Linked DNA regions of Homo sapiens: region 1 is linked to region 2. Evidence: fine-mapped expression QTL. Tissue or cell type: whole blood. Region 2 holds a variant in brackets; the other region holds the start of a gene. All regions are shown on one strand. Distances are from middle to middle.

What was found. PIP is the estimated chance that this variant, and not a neighbour inherited with it, causes the effect.
Region 1: RAB8A starts here. The variant in region 2 is fine-mapped to the expression of RAB8A in whole blood (INTERVAL, PIP 0.97).

What each region holds. Positions count from the first base shown.
Region 1 is chr19:16,106,861-16,114,962 of GRCh38, reverse strand. It overlaps RAB8A (RAB8A, member RAS oncogene family), which reads right to left and starts at 3,074. Exons shown (of 8, transcript NM_005370.5): 1 at 2,938-3,074. The coding sequence starts at 3,061. RefSeq lists a silencer at 3,032-3,691.
Region 2 is chr19:16,128,347-16,136,438 of GRCh38, reverse strand. It overlaps RAB8A (RAB8A, member RAS oncogene family), which reads right to left. Exons shown (of 8, transcript NM_005370.5): 7 at 6,835-6,885; 8 at 2,205-4,227. The coding sequence ends at 4,135. All of the region lies in intron 1 of HSH2D-AS1 (HSH2D and RAB8A antisense RNA 1), which reads left to right. It also overlaps a transcript of HSH2D not described here. Among named protein-coding and RNA genes, the nearest start is that of HSH2D-AS1, 7.5 kb to the left of the region's middle. The variant C/T (reference allele first, on the strand shown) is at 4,024.

The sequences.
Region 1 (8,102 bases), 21 kb after region 2:
CTGGGTTTTATTAACATGCCAAATTTAATTAGGAAGTGTAAACTTTATGAGGCCTAAGAATTATGAGGTCTGACCTTCAAGGTCATGGTGAATTAGACTTTCCTAGAAGACAGAAGGCTACAAATGGAAGGAGGGGAATGAAGGGGTGGGAGGGAGGGATCTTAGGGTCAGGTGCCACCTCCACCTTGCTAGGTAACTTTCACCAAGTCACATCCTCATCTGCAAATGGAAGAAAGCCTCTTTAAAGCTCAAAGTAACTCTAAAGAGGGGGGTTGGGCTGGGCGCGGTGGCTCATGCTTGTAATCCCAGCACTTTGGGAGGCCAAGGTGGGCGGTCACGAGGTCAGGAGTTCGAGACCAGCCTGGCCAACATGGTGAAACCCCATCTCTACTAAAAAAAAAAAAAAAAAAATACAAAAATTAGCTGGGCATGGTGGCAGGTGCTTGTAATCCCAGCTACTTGGGAGGCTGAGACAGGAGAATCGCTGGAACCTGGGAGGTGGAAGTTGCAGTGAGCCGAGATCGCGCCACTGCACTCCAGACTGGGTGACAAAGAGAGACTGTCTCAAAAAAAAAAAAAAAAAAAGAGGGGGGTTTGTGGGGAAGGCTGGGAAACTGGGATCTGAGTGAATGCAAGCCAGTCTGCTCACAGTTAACATCATTTCTTTCTTTCTTTTATTTTTATTATTATTTTTTAAGACAGGGTCTCGCTCTGTTGCCCAGGCTGGAGTGCAGTGACACCATCACAGCTCACTGCACCTTGACCTCCTGGGCTCAATCGATCCTCCCACCTTGGCCTCCCAAGTGGCTGGGTCTACATGGGTGAGCCACTGTGCCCGGCTGATTTTATTTTATTTTTTGTAGAGATGGGGTTTGCCATGTTGCCCAGGCTGAATTAACGCCACTTCTTGATTGGTTGGAGCACAAGAATTACCCTAAAGTTTAGCCTTGGAGTGGGGGAGGGGGAAGAATTCAGAAACATCTGTCTTCAGAGGCTGGATGCTGTCACTGCAGGAGCCATTCATTTGCTTCCTCTAGATAGCCTCTGGTTGTGGTGACAACCCCTTATTGTCTAATTCTAATCCTCAACCACCAGGGCACTAGGCTGGGCAGACAGTGTCACTCCTGCTCTAAAGACAGCAGGGCTCAGAGAGGGGTAGTGCACATTCAAGGGCAAACAGCAACTGGAAACCAGACGTAATGATTTCCAGTCAATTCTCTCTATTTTACATCTGGCATATAACTGTTTTATAAAGCACAGCTCCGCTGGGTGCGGTGGCTCATGCTTGTAATCCCAGCACTTTGGGATGCCAAGGCAGGCAGATCACAAGGTCAGGAGTTCGAGACCAGCCTGACCAACACAGTGAAACCCTGTATTTACTAAAAATACAAAAATTAGCTGGACGTGGTGGCGGGTGCCTATAATCCCAGCTACTAGGGAGGCTGAGGCAGGAGAATTGCTTGAACCCGGGAGGCAGAGGTTGTAGTGACCCGAGATCCTGCCGCTGGATTCCAGCCTGGGCAAAAGAGCTAGACTCCGTCTCAAAAAATAAAATAAAATAAAATAAATAAAGCATAGCTCCTGGAGGAGGGCAAGAATGGAATTAGCACATTATCTTGGGGTTCAGGGAGATAACACGATTCTGTCAAAGTGACACAGTAAAGCAAAGGCCATTCCCTAGGTTTTCTTGAGTCGGAATAAACTCCTGGACTTAGTGACCGTTCCCCCACTTTCCCCATCCCTAGCAGGGCTACAGAGCTCACAAGCCACTCAAATAGGTGTTACTCCTGGGTCAAACCTTTTCATTGTGGGCCAGGACTGCTTTTGTGGCACTGAGAGAGGTCAGCTCCACTTCTGTGGACATCACAACTGAGATGCACCAAGCCAATTCTGTTCAACCACAATGTGGGCTGGCCCTACAGGAAAAGCTGTTCTAAAGTGACAGCTGGAGTCTTGGGCCCTTTGATAGGGAAGTCAAGGCTGTCTGTGGCAGTGGCTGATTTAGTTTCTCGCTGAGGCTTTTATCTTGCATCTTCTTGGGGATGACAGGTCCCAGGGCAGGCAGTGCTGTCACTTGCCATTGCTGTCATTCCTGGAGCAGGATGAAAGGTGGGCAGGGAAAAGGTCCTGACTCTTCTTATCATTCCTTCTAGAGGAAAATACGCTTATGAGGGGAAGCATGGTCAGGGAGAGGGGCTCAACCTCTGAACGCTCCAGAGAAAAGAGCAGGAATGGTGTGGGTTAGAGTCCCGGCTCCAAGGTGCATTAGCTGAGCTTGTCATCAGCTGGGAGTGTGCAGTGGCATCTCTCTAGGAGAGCTAAGCCTCGAGTTTTGGGTTGAGACACAGCCAGGTTCAAATTCCATCAAATCCCATTCTCACCACGTGCAGACTGTGTGGCCTTGGGCAAGTTCCATGCCCTCCCTGAGCCTCAGATTCCTCATCTTGTCAGACGGGCTCATAACAGCACTTAACACCAAGAACTGAAGAGTGTGAAAATGCACGTGAAGCACTTGGCACATAGTAAATGCTCATTAAGGTGAGATGCCACTGTCTTTTTCCCATGGCCAATTCCCCATGACTCAGTTTCCACTTCTGTAAGGCAAGAGCCTCAAAAGAACCGCTTCGAGGGCTGCTGCTAGGACAGATCGAGAGGACGGGCGCGAAGACCCCAGCCCAAGACATAACACGCCCTAACGAGCGGGCTGAGGGTCGGAGCCTCAGTCTCCCTATCTGCAAAATGGGCACCTGGTCTCCCCCACCACGGCCCAGGAACCCCCGAACGGCGGTGCAGGCGACTGCTCTTCTCCCTTTAGGCCCCCTCGACCCTCTCAGCGCCCTCGGCCCGTCCAGCCCTGTAGATCCCTCAGCCCCAGCCCCTCAGGGGCGCGCCCAGCCCGGGCCTCCGGCGCCCCCAGCCATTCCCCGGTCCCGTTACCTATGGTGGAGATAAAAGTGGAGTTGAAGGCGTCCTCGGAGAAGCGGAACAGGACACAGGTCTTCCCCACCCCCGAGTCCCCGATCAGCAGCAGCTTGAACAGGTAATCGTAGGTCTTCGCCATATTACACTCTCTCCCCGACGGGAAGTGCGGCCAGCGCCTCTCCACTGGCCACCAGCACCGTCCATCAGCACCGAGCCCGCCCCTTATTGGCTCCAGGCCCGCTGCGCGTCACCGCGGCCGACGCCCGCCCCTGCGTCCCGCCAGTCGCGGGGAGACCTTGGGAGGGGGCGAGCGGAGCGCGGAGCCGGAAGCAGCCCGAGCGCACCTCCCATTGGCCGGCACTAGGGAGAGCACGGGCTCTGATTGACCAGCAGTGAAGAGTCGCGGGGCTTCAAATGGGGACGAGGCGGGGGCGTGGCATTATGTGGCCCCCGCCTTCCACCCCCGACTCGGGCGGCCCGGCCCCGCCCCACTGTAGGAGAGGGAAGGCAGGGAGCGGCGCCAACCGCTCGCGCGCCGGCAGCCTGGCGGGGCGTGGCTTGGGGTGCGTGCGCACGCGCGCCCGGAGTTCCGTTAGGCGACAGCAGAGGGCGCACGCCAGTAGTTGGGGCGGGTGTCTCTGGGTCCCGCCCTCACAGCTCGCGCAGGCGCAGTAGGCACCGAGGCGAGCGCGGGAAAGCAAGGTAGCGCTCTCAGCCTTGTCTGCGGCCTGCGAGTCGGGGCAGTGGGGGCCTAGGGAGGAAGGAGAGAGGAGGAGCTGTATACTCGAAAAGTGACCCAAGCCGGACGCGGTGGTTCACGCCTTTAATTCCCACACTTTGGGAAGCCGAGGCGCGTGGATCACGAGGTCAGGAGTTCAAGACCAGCCTGGCCAAGATGGTGAAACCCCGTTTCTACTAAAAATACAAAAATTAGCCGGGCGTGGTGGCGGGCGCCTGTAATCCCAGCCACTCGGGAGGCTGAGGCAGAGAATTGCTTGAATCTGGGAGGCGGAGCTTGCAGTGAGCCGAGATCGCGCCATTGCACTGCAGCGTGGGCGACAGAGAGAGACTCCGTCTCAAAAAAAATAAATAAAAGTGACCCAAGACGAGCTCCGAGGTCTGCGGCCTAGCGATCTGCTTAGAGATACCCAAGGCCTCCGCCATCTGAGCGGCTTCACCGCCACAAGCTGTGCCCGGAAGCGCGCGCCGGCCTCCTCAGGGCCCGCCCTCGGCCACCTTAGGGGTTGTCCGGGCCAGCCCGGGGATGGTGGGGGGGGAGGGGTTAGAGCAGTGAGGATGCTGGGTCCTATCTAGGGGCCAGGGCTCTCAACGTTGAAAAAACTGGCCGGGGCGTTGGCTCCCGTCTGTGATCCCAGTGCTTTGGGAAGCCAGGAGGTTGAGGGTGCAGTAAGCCGTGATCGCCCCACTGCAATTCGGCCTGGGCGACAGAGCAAGACCCTATCAAAAGAAAAAAAGGCTGGGCGCGGTGGCTCAGGCCTGTAATCCCGCACTTTGGGAGGCCGAGGCGGGCGGATCAGGAGGTCAGGAGATCGAGACCATCCTGGCTAACGCGGTGAAACCCCGTCTCTACTAAAAACACAAAAAATTACCCGGGAGTAGTGGCGGGCGCCTGTAGTCCCAGCTACTCGGGAGGCTGAGGCAGGAGAATGGTGTGAACCCGGGAGGCGGAGCCTGCAGTGAACCGAGATCGCGCCACTGCACTCCAGTCTGGGCGACAGAATGAGACTACGTCTCAAAAAAAAAAAAAAAAAAAAAAAGAAAGAGAAAAACAGAGGAGAGATACATTTGGAAAATCGGGCTTGCAGCTGGGTGTGGTGGCTCAGGCCTGTAATCCCAGCACTTTGGGAGTCAGCACTTTGGGAGGCAGGAGGATTGCTTGAGCTTAGGAGGTCAAGACCAGCCCGGACAAGATAGGGAGATCCCCATCTCTACAACAAATAAAATTAGCTGGGCGTCATGGTGCACGCTTGTAATCCCAGCACTTTGGGAGGCTGAGGTGGAGGTTCATTGGAGGCCAGGAGGTGGAGACCAGCCTGGGCAACATAGCAAGACCTCCATCTCTGCAAAAAAAAAAAAGTTTTTTGGCCAGGCGAGGTGGTTCACACCTGTAATCCCAGCACTTTGGGAGGCCAAGGCAGGTGGATCACCTGAGGTCAGGAGTTCCAGACCAGCCTGGCCAACATGGTAAAACACCATCTCTGCTAAAAATACAGAAACTAGGCAGGTGTGGTCATGTGCGCCTGTAGTCCCAGCTACTCAGGCGGCTGAGGCACCAGAATTGCTTGAATCTGGGAGGCGGAGGTTGCAGTGAGCCGAGATTGTGTCACTGCATTCCAGCCTGGGTGACAGAGCAAGGCTCCATCTCAAAAAACAAAAAATTTTTTTAAAAAATTAGCCAGGTATGGTGGTGTATGCTTGTAGTCCCAGCTACTCAGGAGGCTAAGGTGGGAGGATCCCTTGAGCCCAGGAGGTCAAGGCAGCAGTGAGCTGTGATCGCACCATTGCACTCCAGCCTGGGCGACGGAGCAAGACCCTGACTTTTTTTTTTTTCTGAGATGGAGTCTCTCACGGTCACCAGGGCTGGAGTGCAATGGCGCGATCTTGGCTCACTGCAACCTCTGCCTCCCGGGTTCAGGCGATTCTCCTGCCTCAGCCTCCCAAGTAGCTTGGATTCCAGGCACCCACCACCACGCCTGGTGTGGTGTATTTTTTTGTATTTTTAGTAGAGATGGGGTTTCACTGTGTTGGCCAGGCTGGTCTCGAACTCCTGACCTCGTGATCCGCCTGCCTCCACCTCCCAAAGTACTGGGATTACAGGCGTGAGCCCCTGCACCCGGCCCCTGACTCTTAAAATTTTAATCCCAGTACCAGCCCAGCAAAACGATGTTATTGTTTTTTTCCTGTTTAATGGTGAGAAAACTGAAGCCAGAGGAGGTTAAGTGACTTTTCCCCCTTCCTGCTTAAAAGTGGGAATTTGGTATCTGAACTCAGAGTGCCAAGCTTCCCAGGCCGCAGTTTGATCACTAGGGCTCCCTGCTTCTTAGAGATGGTCCAGTCTGTTCTAGGTCACTCTGGGGCCTCCGGGGCCTTGAGGCTTACTTAAGGATCTGTGGAAGGAGGGCCCAGCCTTTCCTCCTCCCTTCCACTTCAGCTCATTCTTCTGCTAATCTAGCTCTGGTTAAAAAAGCTTCAACCAGAGGCATTGACCACCTACAGGCCTCAGCCTCTGTGGTATTTGATAGTCTTGATCACCTCTGAATATTCTTTTTTCTTGGTATTATCCTCATTTATTTACTTATTTTTGAGACAGGGTCTTGTTCTGTGGCCCAGGCTGGAGAGCAATGGTGTGATTTCACTCACTGCAACCTCCGCCTCCCAGGCTCCAGTGATTCTCCCACCTCAGCCTCCAGAGTAGCTGGAACTACTGGCATGCACCACCACGCATGGCTAATTTTTATTTTTTGTAGAGATGGGGTCTTGCTATGTTACCCAGGCTGGTCTGGAATTCCTGGGCTCAAGCCATCCTCCCACCTCAGCCTCCCAAGTAGCTGGGACTACATCTGCACGCTACTATGGCAGGCTAATTTTTTTATTTTTTGTAGAAATGGGGTCTCCCTATGTTGCCCAGGCTGGTCTCAAACTCCTGGGCTCAAGAGATCCTCCAGCCTCCACCTCCCAAAAAGCTGGGATCACAGGTATGAGCCACCATGCCTGGCCCTATACCATTATTATTTTTTTTTTTGAGATGGAGTTTCACTCTTTGTTGCCTAGGCCGGAGTGCAGTGGCACGATCTCAGCTCACTGCAACCTCTGCCTCCCGGGTTCCAGTGATTCTCCTGTCTCAGCCTCCTAAGTAGCTGGGATTACAGGGGCCCACCACCACATCTGGCTAATTTTTGTATTTTTAGTAGAGATGGGATTTCACCACATTGGCCAGGCTGGTCTCGAACTCCTGAGCTCAGGTGATCTGCCCACTTCGGCCTCCCAAAGTGCTGGGATTACAGGTGTGAGCCACCACGCTTGGCCCCTATCCCCCTTTTTTTTTTTTTTGAGATGGAGTCTCGCTCTTTCACCCAGGCCGGAGTAAAGTGGCATGATCTCGGCTCACTGCAACCTCTGCCCGCCGGGTTCAAGCGATTCTTCTGCCTCAGCCTCCCGAGTATCTGGGATTACAGGCACGTGCCACCACGCTCGGCTAATTTTTGTTATTTTTAGTAGAGACAGGGTTTCACCATGTTGGCCAGGCTGGTCTTGAACTCCTGACATCAAGTGATCCCCTCAAAGTGCTGGGATCACAGGCATAAGCCACTGTGCCCGGCCCTGTCCCTATTTTATTTGCTGGTTTCTTCTCCCTACCACCTCTGCCTCTGCCTCCCCTTCTTTGTTTGTTTGTTTTTTCCTCAGACCCCATTGAAGTCTTTTTGAGGTGGGGGAGGGGTGGGTTCTGCCTGTCCCTTAGTGTTTGTGGTCCTCGTTGTTCTGTCTCTGTTCTCACTTTCTGGGGGCTCCTAATCCATGCTGACCATTCTCAGTGTTTTATCCTTAGCCCAGCCATCTCTTCACATCCACCTGCGTTCAGGACATCTCCCTTTGGATTTGTCAGATACTCCTAGCTCAGCATGTTCACAACTGAACCCATCAGCCAATACCCAGACTGGCTTGTCCTGATTTTCCTTAGGAGTGAAACTTAAGCTGTCTTTGACATCTGCCTTTCATCTCTCATCCGTCACATTCTGGTTTTTAAGGAGGTTCTAAATAGCTCTTGAGGGCCGGGCGCGGTGGCTCATGCCTGTAATCCCAGCACTTTGGGAGGCCGAGGTGGGTGGATCACCTGAGTTAGAAATTTGAGACCAGCCTGGGTAACATGGTAAAACCCCGTTTTTCCTAAAAATTAAAAAAATTAGCCGGGTGTGGTGGGCATCTGTAATTCCAGCTACTCAGGAGGCTGATGCAGGAGAATGGCTTGAATCCGGGAGGCGGAGGTTGCAATGAGCCAAGATTGCACCACTGCACTCCAGCCTGGGTGACAGAGCAAGACTCTGTCTCAAAAATAAAAAATAAAAAAACAAATAGCTCTTGAATTGCATTCTTCCATTTCCATTGCCACAGTGGAATCATTACATTTCTCCACTGGTCTCCCTGACCATTTTCTCTAACCC
Region 2 (8,092 bases):
CGTGGGTCTTGAGTGGTGCTGGGATTCGGGCCCAGGCAGCTCCCTCTTATCCGTGACCCATTAAGGGCTCAGAAGAAAGCCAGGCACAGGATGGGTTCCCAGTCAGGATCTGCTATTCATTGCCATTGGCTGTCACTGTCTCCGAATTTTGCAGTTTTGGACAGAAACTGCAAAGTTTCGTGGAAAGAAAGCAAGTTTCCCAAAGTGGCCATTTATCAGGCATCCGTGGCAGGGGGTGACTTTTGAGTTTTAGTATCAGGATTCAGGGTCCTCCTGAGTGCGTGCTCGGAGGCTCAAGGATAGAGATGACAGAGATTTTGATGGGAGCTAAGCCAGGGACCACCAGGGCAGGCCTCTAGCATGGTCAGGTGGGAAGGGAGTTTGTGGCTGGGGGTTCCCAAACCCACTGAGTTTGCAATGCCTGGGGAGCTGCCCCCTAGGCTGCAGAGGCTGCAGGATCAACCCTGGAAGCTGGTTTCTTTGAGGGAAGAGGATGTCTCCTCCCTTGTGCTCACCCTAGAGGCCATTTGCGTGTCCTTCATTAATTCAATGGGTTCAGGCCACACACAAGCACACTACAGAAGTCCCTGTCCTCATGGAGGTTTTGGGCTGAGTGGGGACAGGGTTGGCAATGAAAACAGGTAACTTCTCATAAATGCTATGAAGATGAGCTAGGAAGAGAGAAGGGCATGACTGGGAGAGGCCTCTGCAGAGGTAGCCCTGGATAACCATGATGTGATGGACAGTGGGCTTTGCACATTTCAGGAGACTACAAGACTAGGGTGTGGCAAGTGCAAAGGCCCTGGGGCCTTCTCAGTGATGAGTGTGGAGTGAAGGAGTAAGGAAGGAGAGGATTGGAGTGGAGTGAGCCAGGAAGGGCAGCCAGAGAAAGAGGAAGGAGTAGGCAGGGCTATGGCTGCAGCGTGTAGAGGCTTGTGCCCCACGGTGAGGGGCGTAAGTTGTATCCCTAAGCCCAAGGAAGACCTGGGGAGGTTTTTTGTTTTTTTTTTGAGAAAGGGTCTTGCTCTGTCACCCAGGCTGGAATGTAGTGGTGTGGTCACAGCTCACTGCAGCCTCCAACTCCTGGGCTCAAGTGATCCTCCCTCCTCAGCCTCCTGAGTAGCTGGGACTACAGGTGCATGCCACCATACTATTTTTTATTTTTTTGAGACGGAGTCTTGCTCTGTCACCCAGGCTAGAGTGCAGTGGCGCAATCTCGGCTTACTGCAACCTCTGCCTCCCAGGTTCAAGCGATTCTCCTGCCTCAGCCTCCTGAGTAGTTGGGACTACAGGCGCGTGCAACCATGCCTAATTTTTGTATTTTTAGTAAAGATGGGGTTTTGCCATATTGGCCAGGCTGGTCTTGAACTCTGAACTCCTGACCTCAGGTGAACCACCCACCTCGGCCTCCCAAAGTGCTGGGATGAGGCATGCGCCACTGCACCCGGCCAATTTTTGTACTTTTTTTTTTTTTTTTTTAGAGATGGGGTCTCACTATGTTGTCCAGGATGGTCTTTAACTTGAACTGGCCTCAAGCTATTCCCCTGCCTCTGCCTCTCAAGGCACTGGGATTATAGGCATAAGCCACACACCCCAGCCCCTGGGGAGAGCTTTAAGCAAGGAGGTGACACTGATTTCAGTTTCGTAAGGACACTCTGAAAATAGTTTGAAACACAGAGGTGAGGACCTGAAACCCATGAGGAAGTGGTCACAGAGGTCCAGGTGGTCGTGGCTACAACTCGGGAGGGGTCAGCTGTGGGCACGATGGGGAAGGCAGGGATGGAGTCCAGGGTCAGGGCTGTGTTATGCTTACGGTGCCGATGAGACATTCAAATTGGAATAGAGAGTGGCAGGTGAAACCGACCTGGGTCTGGCCTGGATTTGCAGCTTGAAAGCCACTGGCCTATCTAAAAGCATAGTGTGTGCAGAAAAGAATGAATAGATCTGAGGCTGCTTCCTGAGAAAGGCCTGCTGGCAAGGTGGGCCTGCAGTTGGTAAAGTTCCCTACGGATATTAAAACTTCCCTACATGCGTGGCTCATACACTTTCTGTACAAGTGATGCGGTTTATGCTAAACCCCTGCTTTCTTTGTAGGAGTCTGGAATCCTGATAAGTGCCAGGTAGAGGGTTCCTATGTGACTGGCTCCATAAACACCTGGGTACAGAACTGCCAACTAGCTTTCACAAAAGACACATTACACACCTGTTGTTACAACTCATTGTTGGGGGAGTTAAGCATGGGGTGTGTGACCCCACTGTGAGAGGATTCTGGATGCTTCTGTCTGGTTGCCTCTGGACTTCACTCTGCATGCCTTTTCCCTTTGCTGATTTTGCTGTGATCTTGGCTGTGAGTACAGCTCTCTGCCAAGTCCTAGGGAATGACTGGACCTGGGTGTGGTCTTGGGAAGGACCCTGGATAGAGTGGAAGGAATGCCCTGGAAAGCCAGCCAGGAGAGGGCCCCTAGAAGGACCTGCCAGGGAGGCAGGAGGGACACAGTGGCCGAGCTGTGTGCCAGAAGCCAGGTGACGCAGGCTCACCATGTTGGCCAGGCTGGTCTCGAACACCTGAGCTCAAGTGATCAGCCCGCCTTGGCCTCCCAGAGTGCTGGGATTACAGGTGTGAGCCACTGCACCAAGCCAGGAGGCTTCTTTTCCCAATTTAGTCTTTTGATGATGGGTGGCATCTCCTCTGAGGTGGCCGCTCGATGGGGTAATCCATGGGCTCTACCATCTTGTCCAGACCCACCCCCAGCACCTGGCCATGTCCGTGTGGCCTACAGGGAAAATGTGGACATAAAAATCCTTGGACTTTAAGATGAGCTTTAATTTGTTTGTTTTCCTTAAGTGCATTTATCGATGTAAACAGAGCATGTTAGAGATTCCCGGGGAGAGCAGACTATTGCTGATATGTTGGTTTTAATTCAAAAGAAACGATGATGCCAATGGTTTGGATTGACAGCAGCTTAAGGAGGAAAAAAAAAAAAAGAAAGAAAAAAAGAAAAGGCTGGTGACACCCCCCTGGCGTGGTTGACCTGGTCCCAGTCGCAGTCCCTATGGGACAGCAGAGCTGTCAAAACAGAACCCAATGATGACGGCTGAAAATCAAGCCAGACTGCTGTGCGGTCAGCTTGCCGCCGTGGAATGCCTTGTGTCTTGGCCATGTCCAGCCAAGGGTACAACGTGCTTGTTCCCGATCACCCAGGTTTGCCATTGGAAGTCAAAGACAGAATCGCTTCATGGCACTACAGATGTGGAAAAATAAAAATCTCAGCTAGAAAGAACGTCCGATTTGGAGATAGCGGGAGGACACGAAGGAGTGGGGGCCATTTTGGTGCTGAGAGGAGGGTGCCCCAACTTCAGGAGGACCATGTGACGGCTGTGGTTGTTTTCGGGGTCACTTGCAGCACACACAGCGTCCCCTTGATGCTCGATGGGGACCGCAGACGGGCCTGCAGACCTAACCCCTGGCTGTGGACAGGAGAGGCTGCTCCAGGCTTCTTTCCTTCTCAATGCTTTACACAGGATTTCCTTCATTTGTGCTTTCCTTTGGTTTAACAGTTAAAAAAGAAGAGTGAGGGGGCAAAATGGTTTGTCACTTGTCCAAAACTGAGAGAAGAGGTGGAAGTGGGCGCCAAATCTCCTGGGTGATGCTTCCTGGTCCTGGCGATCGGTTGCCTTGCTCAGGGTTTGGGAGCTGTTGCTCCTGGAACCACCGCTGGCCTTCTGGGACCTCGCTTCCGTGGTAGGGGACGTGAACCAGCCTCCTGGTGGAGCTTTGTGTTGCAGTGAGGCCACAAAGCAAAGGCCCAGAGGCAGAGGCCTGACACTGGCTGTGGTCGACGGTCACACCTTGACTCCCTCTCTCTCTCTGAATATACAACGTGTGGGTGGGCCCGTTCAGCAGATGTTACAGGAAAAATAGCAAATTTTTAACTTATTCCATCTCCAAAGTTGAAAAAGATCAGACAGTTACTAAAATAAACGATTTCTCAATTGCATTCTGGTGGCCGTGGGCCCGGTGGC[C/T]GCGGCGTGGGCGGGGCGTTGGAGGTGGGAGGGCCCCGGCTGAGTGAGGGGCTCACTCAGAACAGGCACAGTCAGCTGGGCTGAGCGAGGCTCAGAGTAAGGCGGTGTTCCTCACAGAAGAACACATCGGAAAAAGCTGCTCCTCTTCTGCTGGTCCGGTGTGATTTTGACTCCCTGGTTGCTCCCCTGGGGGCTGTTGCCTTCCTGAAATCACAAGAGGTTTTCTGAGGTTATCACTGAGAATCAGCACTACGTCTCACAATCAACCAGCCATCCACCTAACCATCCACCTAACCATCCATCCAACCATCCAACCAACCAACCAACCAACCAACCAAACAACCAAACCAATCAAACCAGCCAAACCAACCAACTAACCAACGAGCCATCCAACCATCCATCCATCATCTGCCAGGTCATCCATCCATTACCATTCCAGCCATCCAACCAACCAATCAGCCATCAAACCATCCATCCATCATCTGCCAGTCCGTCCAGCTGTCCCCTTCCAACCATCCAACCAACCAACCAACCAACCAACCAACCAACCAACCAACCAACCATCCATCTATACCCTTTCAACCATCCATCCATCCACTCACCCATTCCCTTCCATCCGTCTATCCACCTGCTTCCAACCAACAAACCAATCAACCAACCATCCATCCCTTCCAACCAAGAACCATCCACTCATCCATCCCTTTCCAACCATCCATCTTCTTCCAACCATCCATCCCCTTCCAACCAACCAACCAACCATCCATCCCCTTCTAACCACCTCATCCAACCAACCATCCATCCATCCCTTTCCAACCATCCATCCACCCATCCATCTCCTTCCCCCCATCCACCCTCTTCCAACTAACCATCTCCTTCTAACCACCCCTTCTGACCAATCAACCATCCATCCATCCCCTTCCAAGCAACCACCTCCTTCCAACCAACCATTCATCCATCCCCTTCCAACCAACCAACAAACCAATCATCTATCTATCCAACCATCTCCTTCCAACAAATCAACCATCGATTTATTCCCTTTCAACCAACCATCCATCCATTATCTTCTACCCATCCATCCAATTCTCTTACAACTGATAATTCGTTTTTCAGAAACAGATCTATTTTCCATCTGCTATATACCACCCCTTCCAACCACTCTCTCACTTATCTGCCCACCCCATCATACCCTTCCCAGCACTTTGGGAGGCTGAGGCAGAAGAACTGCTTGAGCCCAGGAGTTTGAGTCCAGCCTGGGTAACAAGTGAGATCCTGCCTCTTAAAAAAGAAAAAATGGCCAGGCGGGGTGGCCCACACCTGTAATCCCAACACTTTGGGAGGCCGAGGCAGGTGGATCACCTGAGGTCAGGAGTTCAAGACCAGCCTGACCAACATGGTGAAGCCTCGTCTCTACTAAAAATACAAAAATTAGCTGGGCGTGGTGACATGTGCCTGTAATCCCAAGTACTCGGGAGGTTGAGTCAGAAGAACCGCTTGAACCTGGGAGGCAGAGGTTGCAGTGAGCAGGGATTGCACCATTGCACTCTAGCCTGGGCAACAGAGCGAGACTCCTTCTCAAAAAAAAAGAAAAAGAAAAAAAATTAGCCAGGCATGGTGGTGTGTGCTTATAGCCCCAGCTACTTGGGAGGCGGAGGTGGGAGGATTGCTTGAGCCCAGGAGTTGAAGGCTGCAGTGAGCTGTGATGGTGCCACTGCACTCCAGCCTAGGTGGCAAAGTGAGACTCTAAAAAAAAAATCTCTTTTTTAACTAATAAGAAAACTAAAAGAAAAAAGAATCAGACCTTGACCATTATACTGAAGAAAAAAAATTGCAAGAAAATCCCAAATTATTGTTGGTCAGTGCACTGGTTTCCATGAACTGTTTCCCATTTTAATTTAATGGCCAAAGAGCTGCTATTAAATCAATCACATGCCTCACTGTTCAACACACCGCATCTTAGAATTACAAAACAGATTTGCTTACATCAGATGTAAAACTTGAACGGCATTTTGTATTTTATGTGCATTCTCAAGTGACCAGACTTAACCCACAAATAGAGCGCCGTGTGCTCCTCGATTGGACAACCAATGTAACATGGCCGGGAAAGGGCAGTTGCTGGAACCAGGGCGAGGGAGGAAGGGTCACTACGGTGTTTAGGCACTAAATGCCCCCAAAGTACAGGGAAGTGTTTGATTCCATCAAGAAAGCACCATTGATACTGAGCGCAGCGGACTAGGAAATCGCTAACGTGGTAAAAAAAAAAAAGCAAGAAACGAATGAGAGGGTAGATGGGTAGGGATTCATGCAGACTTCCCTGGAGGCCTCAGAGAACCCTGGGACACAATGAAGGTTGCAGAGCTGTCACAACTTGTAGCATCTGGGGCTGGGGTGGAGCGGGGGCAGGTTCTTGATCTGCCATGCTTGTCAAGACGATGAGCCAGCAGTTATCAGACACCAGCCCTGGCCCTGCCCAAGCGACCTAGGAAGCTTTTCTCCGAGCCATGGCTCTCTGTCCTTGCACACCATGTTGTCTTTCTGGCCCTTGAGTGGAATGGAAAAGGCCGTGTGCTCCCTGCTAGCCTGGGGATTCACCGGGCACGGCCTTGTCTGCTTGGGCAGCGTCCCCAGGCTGGCACTGCCTGATGCTGATGCCCCAGCCACACCTGCAAACTCTTCCCCCTTTCCCAGCAATGTCCCATGGGGTCTGGCTGGGCCCTAAAAAGCAGGATCTAGGGCACGTCATATCACTGCTGCTAACGACGATGGCTGGATCCCAGAGATCCACCCGGGGATCTCGGAAGGACACACACTCACCAATTTTTTGTCCATTTTTGCTTTGATATCTCTGGCGAGAGTGAAAAATGCCTGTGGAATAAGCACATTGTGAGTCCTTGGGATGGCAGGACCCTGAGTCCTCAGCCGCCCGTGTACAGCGGGTGTGGTGAGACAGCTTCCCAGGCGTGGGCCTCCCATTTGGCCCTTTGATGCCCGCCTCTGGCAGTGGGTTCATCTGGCCTGTCCGGCCCCAGCTCATCCTTCCCCGGCTCCCTCTGCCTCCCACCCACCCTTACTCTCTGACATCAACTCTCACTTCCGCAGAGCACCTTAGCATTGACGGGACTTTACGCATGTGCCACCTCCCCTAAGCCCTGTGAGATGGGGCGACACTCAGTTGGCCAGAGAGGAAACTGAGGCTCAGAGAGGCCAAGTGACTTGTCCAAAGGAACCCAGCAGTTAACCGACCAATCCAGAAGGATCTAGGAGTGCCCAGTTCTTTGTCTCTGACTCCTAGGTTCTGTCAGCTCTGGCCTCCCTTCTGATGGTCAGGGAAAAAGGCAAGCAGCTCTGTGGCCAAACAAGCTTCACTCGGAGTCCTTGCCTGGCAGGGCTGGGAGCGGGAGCAGGTTCATCTCCCAGCACAGCCAAGGGTTGAGCTGCTGTCACAGCCTTGAGGAGGGGACATACAGAGATGGCGGGAGGCGTGATCCCAACATACATCCCCATGATGTGGGAGGTTCTGGAGAGGAGAGTGGCTTGGGGTGCGGAGGAAGGCCCAGGGGAGACTGAAGGTGTTCTTGGGGAGAGGCCCCCAGGGCCAGGCCCTGACTAGAAAAGGGAACCTGGCAGGCAGAAAAAGGGGCACACAGGAGGGAAATGCAGTGACGTATTGGAGAAGGGAGCAGCCCAGGTGGCCTGGGGAGGGCAAGGCCTGAGCCCTGGGTGGCAAACACCAGCTGTAGCCGGTGAGGGAGGGCCTTCCACGCCAGGCAAGGAGTCTAGCCTTTGTCTTCACGTCAGCATAGAGACTTTAGGTCGGGAGTGATATGGAAGATCCGCCTTGGAAACATGACTAGGATGGGGAAACATCACAGGATCGGCCGCAGGGCTGGGGTCGCCCCGTGGAGAGGGGAGGGTGGCATGGGCCCAGGTCCCATCAGGGCTCCCTGCTATGTCTGGGCTTTTTTGACAGGGGCCTCTCCAGGGTGAGTGGTGTGGCTGAGAGGGTAAACACAGAGCTGGGTCTTTCTGAGCCTTAGTTTCCTCACCTGTAAAACCGTGCCTATTCCCCAGG